3 separate regions of the Homo sapiens genome follow, and all the other regions are reported to be linked to region 2. The links are microRNA targets in miRTarBase. Many come from high-throughput screens and were not tested one by one. Region 2 holds a microRNA gene; each other region holds the end of a gene's coding sequence. Distances are from middle to middle.

Region 1 (4,056 bases), 11 Mb from region 2:
CCTGGATTCAAACTGTTCCTCTACAGCCCATATCCAAGGACGCCTACACTTACCAGGTGTGAACCCTTGGGGCACTGGCTTCCTGAGACTAGGAAGAAACAACTAGATCCCTTTTTTCCAGCCCACACCCTCAGTGTGCTTGACCCTCATCCTGAGACATTCCTCCTGCGGTCCTAAGGCCTCGACTGGTCACGATGGGCTGCTTCATCTGTGACGAGGGTCTTTGAGGCTAGATCCATACTAACGCCAAGTGTGTCCTTGTTAAGAGAAGAGTCAATCTGGATACGGGTTTACACCAGTATGGATTTTTCTTTTTTCTGGGACAGGGTCTCACTCTGTTGCCCAGGCTGGAGTGGAGTGGCACGACACAGCTCATTGCAGCCTTGACCTTCAGGGCTCAAGCAATCCTCCTGCCTCAGCCTCTTGAGTAGCTGGGACCACAGGCATGCACCACCACATCCAGCCGATTTTTATTTTTTGTAGAGGCAGGGTCTTGCCATGTTGTCCAGGCTGCACTACACATTTATTTATTTTTGAGACAGAGTTTCGCTCTTGTTGTCCAGGCTGGAGTGCAATGGCGTATCTTGGCTCACTGCAACCTCCGCCTCCTGGGTTCAAGTGATTCTCCTGCCTCCGCCTCCCGAGTAGCTGGGATTACAGGCACCCGCCACCATGCCCAGCTAATTTTTTTTTAGTAGAGATGGGGTTTCACCATGTTGGCCAGGCTGGTCTCAAACTCCTGACCTCAGGTGATCCACCCGCATTGGCCTCCCAAAGTGCTGGGATTACAGGCGTGAGCCACCGTGCCCAGCCAGATTTATTTTTATAGAGATGGAGAAGGAGTCTCACCGTTACCCAGGCTGGTCTCAAACTCCCGGGATCAAGCAATCCTCCTTCCTCATCCTCACAAAGTGCTACGATTACAGGTGTGAGCCACTGTGCTCAGCCTGCACTATGGATTTTTAATGTTGACAGTGTCTTGGAACTAGTTACTTCCTTAGGATTTACTGCTGTAGAAAATATTTATGCCTTTTCATTTTTCTCCTAACTCCATATCTTCTAAGCAACCTTGGTTCTGTCACCTACAGTACTTACCAGAAATCGGATTCCTACTACTGGCAAAAGAGTACAGTGAGCTCCAACATTAGTTATGTTCTACTAAGGAAGAAAGCAAAAACTCAGCTGGACATAGTGGCAGGTGCCTGTAGTTCCAGCTACTCCGGAGGTCAGGAGCTTGAGTACAGCCTCGGCAACACAGTGAGACCCTGTCTCTAAAAACTAAAATTAAAACAAAAAAAGAGCAAAAACTGCTTCTAGTCAAAATTACACTTGAAAACCCCTTAAATAACTCATGGGGTAGAGAATGCATATGTTGCTGTCAATATATCCAATTAATCTAGGTTTTCCAAGTACCAGAAGTAAGTGGTCAGGGGCACCCTGAGCAGCCAATTAGAAATCAGAGTACCTTGAGCTCTCTAGCAGCCCATTTTAGTGAAATAAAATCAAGTCTGATGACTGAACGACCTGTGGTTTTCAAAATTCTCCACTGTGACTCACAGTCAAGAGACATTTCTACAATCCAGTCATGATGTGCATATGTAACTAAAATACGTTTCCACATCAACACTTACCCTTAACAGATGTAATGCACTCTGATACTATTCAATTGCTTAAAAATGCTGGCGTCACACAAAGCTACACGTATGATAAAAATGCACAGATGTACATCTCATACAGTGCACGTAAATCCGGCCAAATCTGAAGGTGTGTGGACTATACTAATGATTTTTTCTTGGCTGTGATGTTATACAACAATTATACAAGATGTTAGCATGGTGGGGGAACCAAGTGGAAGGTATACAGGATCTCTCTGTATTGTTTCTTACAACCGTATTTAAATCTACAGTTATCTCAAAATCAAAAGTTTAGAAAACAAAAATGCTTGTTGTGATATAGTCACACCACAATTAATGGGTCCCAAGCCAGTATGAAACACTGCCATAGATGGAAGGCAGAAACCATTAGAATGACCATCAGACCGTTGCAGGTGCCCCTAAAATTCTCCTCTTAATTCCTTACACCAAGCAAACTTTCTGAAGCAATTTCATTTCAGGGACCAGAGTCCTGCTGGGGGACAGCTGCTCTACTAGGCTCTGTACTGTTTTTGACAACTGCTCTCCCTGAGAGCAGTCTTTTGGGCTGCCATGTGAGAAAGACAAACTGTGGCCAATTAGTCTGCATCAGACCCACACCTGAATACTCATCAATGTCCTGCAGGACCACACACTAAGGAACACATTTTGGGAAATTCCACACATTATTCACAATAAAAAGATAAACCAGAAAACCCTTTAATTTCTCTGTCATTGACCAGGGAGCTTCAGGAGCAGCCACAGAGTCTCAGGGACCAAGCTTTATAAGGAAGCATGTAAGTTTGTATTAATAGCTCGCTGGGTTCCATAGCTCATGCCTATAATCCCAGCACTTTGAGAGGCTGAAGCAAGCAAACTGCCTGAGTCCAGGAGTTTGAGACCAGCCTGGGCAAGATGGCGAAACCTCATCTCTACTAAAAATAAAAAAAATTAGCCAGGCATAGTGGTATGCGCCTGTAATCCCAGCTATTTGGGAGGCTGAGGTGGGATGATCACCCGAGCCCAGGAGGTAATGACCCTGTCTCTCAGGGGGAAAAAAAAAAAGTTTAAATATAGCTCACTGGCCAGCCATTCTCTCCTCTAGGGAAGGTGAGGATCTAAACCTGATGGGCTCCTGAAACTAGGGCTTCCCAGCTTAGGTTTGCAGGTTCAAGGGTAGTATAGGTCTATCCTTCTTCCTTCCTTCTCTTCTCACTTTGGACTCGCAGTCCAGAAACCCAGCAAATTCTCATGTAAGATAGAAAGATTTTCTTTATTAATGACCCCAACCGTATTTCTTTAGATACAGGAGTTTTGAACTCAAATACTTAGGAGAAAACAAGTTATGACTGCATTATCCTGCAACTCATTACCAGTAATATATTGCAAAGCGAAACAGCTTGGAAAAGAGGGTGGGAGAAAAGGGAAGTGAGGGAGGGAAGATAAAGAAAAGGAATTAAGTTGATCAAGTGGAATTCTTTTTTTTTTTTTTTTAATTCTTGGGAACTATGAAGTCTTTGCAAGCACAGCTCGTTTCTGCAGATTATTTTCCAAACGTGTACAAAATGGAACCAAAACGGAGAATCCCTTAAGAACCTGAAGAGGCGCAACATTAAAAGCTACGATTATCCAGTAGCAAGTGTTCCAGCCTTCAGTTGCCAGCCGCTTCCTCCTCTTATTCCCAAGATTAGCGGGATGAAAACGTCTTCCCCCTTCAAAAGGAGAGATAAGTGCGAAGGTCAGTTTCTGGCTGCCCTTTCCTCCCACCCCACACTCCTAGACTAGATGGGATCCCAAAGAAACACCAAATGAGAGGTGGAAAGGGCTAGATTCCTTAAGCAGAGGCACTGGAACCACAGGACATCGGCTAAAATCTGGCTTTCACAGAATGGTTTCACGAGCTCTTCCTTCCTATTGGATACTTTGGATGCCCGGGAATATCAGTGTTAAGCCCACAAGGACATTCAACGTACCAAGTTAGATAGAAGAATCACTTGTTCACAATTTCTGGATGGCCTAGACGTACCTGAATTTCCGACTAGGCTCAAACCGTCTTCTTAGTACTACCTCATTTGTCAGCTCCTCCTACACAGTGTATACCTCTCAGGGCTCCCAGATAGCAGTTCCTTTATCTCTCACCATGAAGGCAGGTGGCTGGTTCAGAGCAATCCTCAGAACTTCCAAGGCTAAAGGTATTTCTGCTATCACGTGGTGACTCCTCCTCTGGCTTATACAACACCTGCCTGGTTCGAGGCTCCTGAATTGTGGTGTCCTGTTCCACCCAGTATTTCTCCAGATGGGCTAGGTGGTTCTCAAGGACAGAGCCTCTAACTGGTACCTAACAGTATCTGGGAAAGCAGCCTGGAAGCTAGAGCTGAGAACTATGGGAAATCAGGGCAAAAACATGGGCTCTAGATTTTCCCTG
Region 2 (4,068 bases):
TTTTTAATAGAAATGGTAACTTTATGGGGCAAAGTAATATTTATGGCTTATGACTCTTGGTGAGTATACAGCAGAATTACAACTGAAATGGACACATATTTTAAACTAACACTTTCTGTGGTACCTTGGTGGTACTTTAGAATAATATGTATTTCTAGGCTGGGCTCAGTGGCACATGCCTGAGAGTGGCTCATGCCTCAGAGGCTCATTCCTCCCAGCACTTTGGGAGGCCGAGGCAGGCGGGATCACCTGAGGTCAGGAGTTTGAGACCAGCCTGGCCAACATGGTGAAACCCTGTCTCTACTAAAAATACAAAAAATTAGCTGGGTATGGTGGCACATGCCTGTAATCCTAGCTACTTGGGAGGCTGAGGCAGGAGAATCGCTTGAACCTGGGAGATAGAGGTTGCAATGAGCTGAGATCACTCCAGCCTGGGCAACGAGCGAAACTCTGCCTCAAAAAAAAAAAAGAAAAAAATAATAATATGTATTTCTACCATAATTAACGTGCATGTGAAGTAATACCTTTTGGCGCGTCAGTCATCAGACCGCTCATATGTTCCAGTATAGTCCAGCACACACCTGCCTCATTAAAATGTGCTTTGAGTATATAATAGCTAATAAGGATTGGGTAGAATTTGAATAGCTGAATAAACATTTTTTTGCACAAGTGTACGTTTGTTATATTTAAGGAATAAGTTAACAGATAACAGATGCTATTGCTGTTAGGAGCCCTATCACAATACCTTTGATATCTTTGGGAATCCAGTTTTTTAATAATATAATAAATTCCCCTTTGTTCTCTGGGAATCTAACCATAGCCCTTAAAGGATATTACCTTGGTGAACTGTCAGGAAGTAGTGTCCCCACAACCTGGCAGTGTAAAACTCAGCCAAAGTAGCTGTAACTGTGAACTATCTAAAGGAGTCCACATGTGTGGCTTTCACAATGGTGCTCTTTCAAAGGCGGGAACCCTTTTTAAAATTGTACCTGTTTTCTATTTGATTGACTTTCCTAGGCTATTTCTAGATTGTGTGAAGACAAAGACTTGTGTAGAGCCGCTATGAGAAGGTCTTTCAGTGCTGATAACTTCATTGGTATTCAGCGCTCTAAAGCCATCCTCTCTTAAAAGGAGAAATGAGGGGTTATAACGTCATGGGACCTTCATCTACAAAGACTGGAGAAATACCACCTTTCCTGCTCAAAAACCAGCAAAATTAGTGTTTTCATCAAAAGGAAAGATCTCAAATTCAAGAGACTCATGGACAACAAGGATTATACTCCACAGGAAAGAATGGGACCTTGTCAATGCAACAAAACACTCTTCTGTCCTTTTTAATGTAAACAGAGTTACAAAAACCACTCCAAAGTGAAGGCTCCCATCCTACACACAGATATTTGCTTACTGTGTGGGCCGATAGCTGTGAACTATGTAAGGTTTTTTAAACAATAGTTTAAATTTTTAGACTTTAAAGACACTAACCATATAACTTTTATGTTTCTTCCAGTTTCTCTCCCTCCCCCCGCATTTTGCTGCATATGCCTTTAAAATCAATGCAGTATTACCATTAAAACATGGGACTCTAACTAAAGCCACTTAGGAGCAGACAGCAGCGTTGTTAGGTACTGAAGGGTTCTTCCTCCCTACTGTTACCATTGAAGCTGCTAGTCATTGGCAATCATTTTAAACCAAAAAGCTGCTGGATAACATTTGTCATTCATATTCTTTGCAAGCATTACTTTAGCATTTTAGCATGTTTGGGGTCATAAACAGAGGAAGTATCAGTTATTGATATCTACTTCTATTGGAGTCCATGTTGCATTTCTTGTGAACTATAAATGGTGCTTCTCATTTTCTGATAATTTTTCTCTTGCTAAATAAATGTATTAAAAGATATTTTCATAATGCCAACCAACATGGTGGTTCAGTGACGATGAGAAAAAGTGAAGCAGTTTTAAGCTTGAATATAGTTTGGGCCCTCCAAGGCACTGCAGCATGAGTATAAATGCTATAAACCTTTAAAAAACATGATTTGAAAGTTTTTTGTTTTGTTTTGTTTGTTTTTAAAGAGATGGGGGTCTTACTGCGTTGTCCAGGCTGGAGTGCAGTGGCTTTTCACAGGTGCAATCATTGTGCACTCACTGCAGCCTAGAACTTCCTGGTCTCAAGCCATCCTCTAGCCTCAGCCACACAAGTAGCTGGGACTACAAGTGCAACTGGCACCTGTCTCCTGAATATTAAGCTTTTAATTTTTTGTTTCGGTCACTCTTGATAGCAGACATTGACTGAAACAAAAAATTAAAAGCTTTATATTCAAAATTTGCAAAATGAAGCTGGGTGTGGTGGTGCACGCCTATAGTCCCAGCTACTTGGGAGGCTGAGGCTGGAGGATTGCTTGAGGTCAAGTATTGGAGGCTGCAGTGTACCATGATGGTGCCTATAGGAATAGCTACTACACTCCAACCTGGACAACGTTATCAAGACCCCATCTCTTAGAAAAATGCAAAATTAAATGCAAAAGAAATGGGCTGGGCATAGTGATTCATGCCTGTAATCTCAGTACCCTGGGAGGCTGAGGTGGAAGGATTGCTTGAGTGCAGGAGTTCAAGACCAGTCTAGGCAACATAGTGAGACCCTGCCTGTAAAAAAAAATAATAAAAATAGTTGGATATGGTGGCATGTGTCTGTAGTCCCAGCCACTCTGGAGGCTAAGGTGGGAGGATCAGTAGAGCCCAGGAGGTCAAGGCTGCAGTGGGCCATGATCATGTCACTGCTCTCCAACCTGGGCGACATCCAGACCCTGTCTCAAAGAAAAAAGCAGAAGAAAAATGTTCAGACAAGGTTTTGTAAAGGTTTGTAGCATTTATATTTCTACAAGTATCAAAGCTTAAAATTACACTGAACTTTTGGAATACCTTGTATCTCCATAAAATGCCCTCTTTTTAAAAGTAGTTACCCGCAGAGCTGTGCTCTATATGCTTTGATTACCGCAGTTTCTTTAAAGGAAGATTTTGAAGAGCAGTGTTAATTAACATGTAATAAAAGGAATTGGACCCTAATTATAGAAGGTGATATGAACAGCTGTTTTATCATCCTACATGCTACCAAGCTGTAGGTGTCCCATTAAGTCCTGCTATTTAAGAAATACTTACATAACCCTTAGGAACTCTTCAGGCTTTAAAAGGCAAGGAGCAAATAATTTTAGGAGACCGATAATGTCACCTAAATTTGAAATACTAAGAAGAGGTTAGTGTTCTCAACTATGTGAAATCTGTTTCTCCTACTTTCTCAAATCTAATCCTAGGAATCTTGCTTATAAACAAAGCATTTCTGGGACAGGAGTACTTCCTCTATTATAGCAATGCTTCACATCATATTGTGCTGCAGTTTCCATCATTTTTAAAGGACAGAGACATAAATGATAAATAATGGTATACAAATATTACAATCTACCACCTCAAAAAAACAAATATTGTTTATGGAATTCAGAGTTTGGAGATTCAAGTATTGATTGCAGTTTTATTTTGAAAAGAATGCTACAATTTATGTGGTTTTTATTTCTCATGTTTATATTAAAAGCTAATAAACTCTATTTTAATTAAAATATGGCTAGTGTGTTTGTAACACTTCTATCCACATAGTGTTACATCTCTGCCCAGCCTAGTTTTAAGTCAATCCTGATATGTCTTAAAGCATTTTCAAACCAACCATAAGTTGATTTGATCCATGCCTCTAGTTAAGATGTAGTGATCCATTTCTTTTGCATATGCTCTTTTCAACCTGAAGATAATTTATTACACTTAAAATCACTGACCACAATACTTAATGGCATAGTGCATTAGATGGCATCTTGAATAGTTGGTTATCGTGTCTGAGAGGGAAAAGCACATTAGAATATAAAATTAAGCAAAATGTATCAAAGAGAAAGGAATTAAAGGAATAGCGTAGAATTAGAACAAGAGGTATTTGAGGTTTTCAGACAAACAGGAAAGAGAATGGAAAGACAGGAACTAGAATTTGTGTTGCTGTTGAGAGGATGTCTTAAGCCACATAATTTGACTTTAATGT
Region 3 (4,056 bases), not on the chromosome of region 2:
ACTCCGAGCGGCCCGGCGGGCTTCTGCACAGGCGGGTCTTCGTGGTGGTGCGGCCCAGCGACTCCGGGCTGCCCTCTGAGTCGGGCCCTAGCAGTGGGGCCCCCAGGCCCGGCCGCCTCCCGCTGCGGAATGGGCGGGTGGCTCACCACGGCTTGCCCAGGGAAGGGCCTGGCTGCTCCCACCTGCCCCTCACCATTCCAGCCTGGGATATCTGAGGGGGTCCAGGGAGGGCGGGACGCTGCCTCAGGGCCCCGATTGGACACGAGATACATGCAGGCGATAGCGGCCTGGTGTGGTTAGGTGAGGATGCGTGGTCCCTCCCTCTCCAGAGCCAGGCAGTGGTGGGCAGCTGCTGGTGATGTCTTCTCTGCTGCCTTCACCCTCAGTAGAGGCAAATGCGGGGGACGGGAAGGAACCAACTTGCCCTGTGTGGTGGGCTTGACAAACATCATCTCACTGAATTGTCACAACGCTTTGGAGATAGGTTGTCTTCTCTTCCTTCTACAGATGCAAAAACTGAGGCCTGGAGAGATGTGACTCACCCAAGTTTCTCAGGTGGAAATGGCATGTGAAGCTATCTGACTCCAATACCTGTGTGGTTTTTATCATCTCCAGCTGGCTCCAAGAGGGCCCGGTAAGGTAGAACACTGTGAACTGAGTAAGTCCTAATTAGGCAGCTAGGAAGAAGCGAAAAGCAAAGCCGGCCTGTCCCTTGATGCTTTGTGTCCATGTGAGGGAGTCCCTCATGTTCCGTTACTGAAGCCACTCCCCTTGATCCTTTTCTAGAAGAACACGGTGTGCCCCCGCTGCCGGCTCTAATGTGTTGGTTTGTCTTGTTTGTTCCAAGAAGTTCCAAGAAGCCATTGTCCTCAGAGGACGGCAGCTTCAGAACGAGCCTTGGGGAGGCTGCCTCAGTTGCAGGGCACTCTAGGTCTTGCCCTCTGGGTCTGAGCTTAGAGAACAGAGGAGGGACTCCCAGACCAAGGCAAGAACTTACAATGCCACAGACATTGTAATGCTGCAGGGCCACAGGAGGTGTCCTTTTACGTACTCATAGACAACGAGGAAGGGGAAGCACGGTATGCATTTTCCACATTGGGAAACACATCTGCTCACTGGGGCTGCAGGTACAAAGCCTTGCCCAAGGTCTCTCTCCTCCCTGCTTCCTGGGAGGGAGAAGTTGGTCAACTGAAGCTGCAGCCGGAGTGCCATTTGGAGACTCCTGAAGGACACACACTAAACTCTTCCCCAGCACAAATGACTTGTGTACTCTAAGGAGGTACCAGGAGAGCCCTGTTTACTCTGGCTTTCCCCCAACACCCCTGCATCAACTTGAAGAAATGTGGCTTCTTTCCAGGAGACGGGAGCACATGGGATTGCCTTGGAGGGTCCTTTCACAGGCCCCTTCATCTTGCACTTAAATGGACATTTCCCCCCACCTCTGTAGAAAACACGGTGTTGCTAGAAATTTAGTAAACAAAAAAGAAACGTTTCCAGGGGTCGGGGCTCTGAGGCTCTGTTCCCTTAACCGACACACAGTGACTGTTTACTGTTTGCTCCACTCTAAGTTCCAGGTTTAGGGGCAGAAGAAAATTCCTAAGCAGTTGTACAATACATTCTCCAAGCATGTCCCCAGACACCGTCTCATTTAATCCATAGTAATGAGGTTGAAGGAGATTGAATGTTATTGTCATTTCACAAAGTGACTGAAGCTCAAAGGGGCCAAGTTTCCAGGGCCACAGAGGGGCAGGATTTAGATTAAAATTTGTCTTCTGATTGTTCTTCCCACCCCACATGCTGCCTTTCAAGGAAGGTGGGGATGACGGGAGAGCTGGTAATTTCCCCAAAGGCTTTTTTGCCTAACAGTGAACCAGAATGCCCACTCCTGGTGCCCAAGCTCTTGGTCTGGGAAAGAAATCTATTGTGTTTACTCTCGTAATGTCCAGCCTGAGTTGTTCTTGCCCTGGTGCTGAGCAGGCTGCCAAGAGCCATCATGACCTTGTCCTGGTTCTGGGGGTGATGGATGAGGGTCTGAGAGAGAGTATGCCCTCCTGCCCCTCAGTGGTATTAGCTGGTGCCATGCATTTCTGGTACTGTATCAGTGTCATGTGTCATATGGGCCAGAGAGTTCCCAGCTGGTTCTGGGCTATTTGTTGTGAAGAAGTCTGACTCCAGGCTCTAAAAGTAAGCCAGAGAAAGGGCCGTCTCAAACCCAAAATGCCTATCCCTATGGCTGGGTGGGAATTGTCTGAAGACACCACCTGGTGTCTCCTCTGGGGTGTGTTTCTCCTTTAGCATAGCCTCCCCAAGTACAAGATCAGCATTTGAGGCTGGGGGCGGGTAGGGATACCAAAGTACTCACTCAAGCCAACCTTTCCATCACAGCCCCTTTGTCTTCCCCCAAAAGATGTCATGCTTTGAAAGGTTATAACTGCCCAAAAAACTCCTTCAGCTCTCGCTGAAGGTTACAATTAACATATTTTGCTGTTATTTTTGTTTCTTCTAAAAAATCAATCAGAGGCTATACCTGCCCATTCAGATCTGAGTGATAACAGGCATGACAATGCTTTAATGAAGCAGTGAGACATTGTGGGTATGTGGGGAGTTCGTTTCTTTGTGGATGTGGTAAAATATAAATAATATAGAATTTACCATTTTGGCCATTTTTAAGTGTACAGGACTGGAATTAAATATATTCACATTGTTGTGTAACCATTACCACTATCTATTTTCAGAATTTTTTATTATCCCAAACTGCAACTCTGTATCTATAAACAATATCACCGCATCCCCTCTCCTCCTAGCCCCTGGTAACTACTATTCTACTTTCTGTCTGTGAATTTGGCCACTCTAGGTACTTCTATACAAGAGGAATCATACAATACTATCCTTTTTGACTGGCTTCTTTCACTTAGCACAATGTCTTCAAGGTTCATCCATGTTGTGGCATGTGTCAGAATTTCTTTCATTTTAAAAGCTGAATAATATCCCATTGTCTAGATAGTCCTCATTTTGTTCATTCATCCATCAGTGGACACTTAGGTTGTTTCTATCTTTTGGCTACTGTGAATAATGTATGGAGTTTTTAGATGCTAGAAGTAGTTCCTGACAATAGTGCCTGTGTGAATCCTGAGGACAGAGACCCCAGGTTGGGAACCAGGGTCTCTCCCAACTTACCCTTTATGGCTGACAAAACAGAGGCTTCCAGGACAGCTGTGATGTGTCTCACTTCCCTGTGCCCACCCCAGCTGCTCTGGGCTTCTGCTGGGCTTTACTTCCTGACTAGAGTGGCTAGAAAATTGTATGTTTCCTCTACAAGATGTTTTTATGAAGCTATTTTATAATTATAGATTTATTATCCTCACTGGATTCCTATGTTCTGACACCTGGACCCTGACGGGGCCTTGTGCAGCCTAGGCGCCCACGGGCAAGTGGTGTGGACCATTCCTGACACGCCATCCTCCACCTCCAGGTTGGCTGGGTTTCCTAAGGTGACTGCCCTTTCATAAGCGGCAAGTTCGGAGATGAACGGCATGCGTGATGGGGGAAAAGGGCCAGAGGCCTGTTGACACTGAGCATCCCCACCCAGAGGGCCTCCTGGAGGGACTCTGTGTCCTGTCCTGCCATGTGCGGCATGAGTGGTCACCCTCATTGTGGCTCTCCACTGATGAATGGCCTCTTGACTTTACCAAGACCAGGCAGCACCCAACAGACCAATGTGAGCTGGAGGCGGATGCCGGGCCTGCACCCCACAAACCACAGTCTGCCCAGCCCTGTGCTGAGGAGTCTCTCTTGGGGCCTGGAGGACTCATGAGCTGATCTGCATTGGAATGGAGGGCGAAGTTGGCAAAGGAAGATGAGAGCCCCCCTATCATTAGTCTACTGTGTATTCATCCAAAAAGCAAGGCGAGAGCCAAGCCCAGAGCTGGATGGACAAAGGATTGCTATTAAGCTCTGTACCTTTTTGCACCCGTTTCCTCAGCTCACCCCTCAGAAGTGTCACTGATGAAAGATAGATGAGAAGGAGGCGGTCTAAATGGGCTTCATTACAATGAA

What was found. The annotated mature microRNA hsa-miR-4775 reads UUAAUUUUUUGUUUCGGUCACU and lies in region 2 at 2,246-2,267, shown strand. An mRNA with a match to its seed (bases 2 to 7 or 8) in the 3' UTR can be bound and repressed. Matches are read on the target gene's strand: a 7mer-m8 pairs with bases 2 to 8, a 7mer-A1 pairs with bases 2 to 7 and ends in A, and an 8mer does both.
Region 1: miRTarBase lists ARPC2 as a target of hsa-miR-4775. The part of its 3' UTR that is shown has no 7-base or 8-base seed match.
Region 3: miRTarBase lists NPFFR1 as a target of hsa-miR-4775. The part of its 3' UTR that is shown has no 7-base or 8-base seed match.

What each region holds. Positions count from the first base shown.
Region 1 is chr2:218,253,178-218,257,233 of GRCh38, reverse strand. ARPC2 (actin related protein 2/3 complex subunit 2) reads right to left here. Exons shown (of 11, transcript NM_152862.3): 11 at 2,886-3,343. The coding sequence ends at 3,319. Among named protein-coding and RNA genes, the nearest start is that of GPBAR1, 5.8 kb to the left of the region's middle.
Region 2 is chr2:207,752,571-207,756,638 of GRCh38, forward strand. It overlaps MIR4775 (microRNA 4775), which reads left to right and starts at 2,237; the gene lies at 2,237-2,311. CCNYL1 (cyclin Y like 1) reads left to right here. Exons shown (of 10, transcript NM_001330218.2): 10 at 1,018-3,604. The coding sequence ends at 1,128.
Region 3 is chr10:70,251,116-70,255,171 of GRCh38, reverse strand. It overlaps NPFFR1 (neuropeptide FF receptor 1), which reads left to right. Exons shown (of 4, transcript NM_022146.5): 4 at 1-4,056. The coding sequence ends at 215. Among named protein-coding and RNA genes, the nearest start is that of PPA1, 20 kb to the right of the region's middle.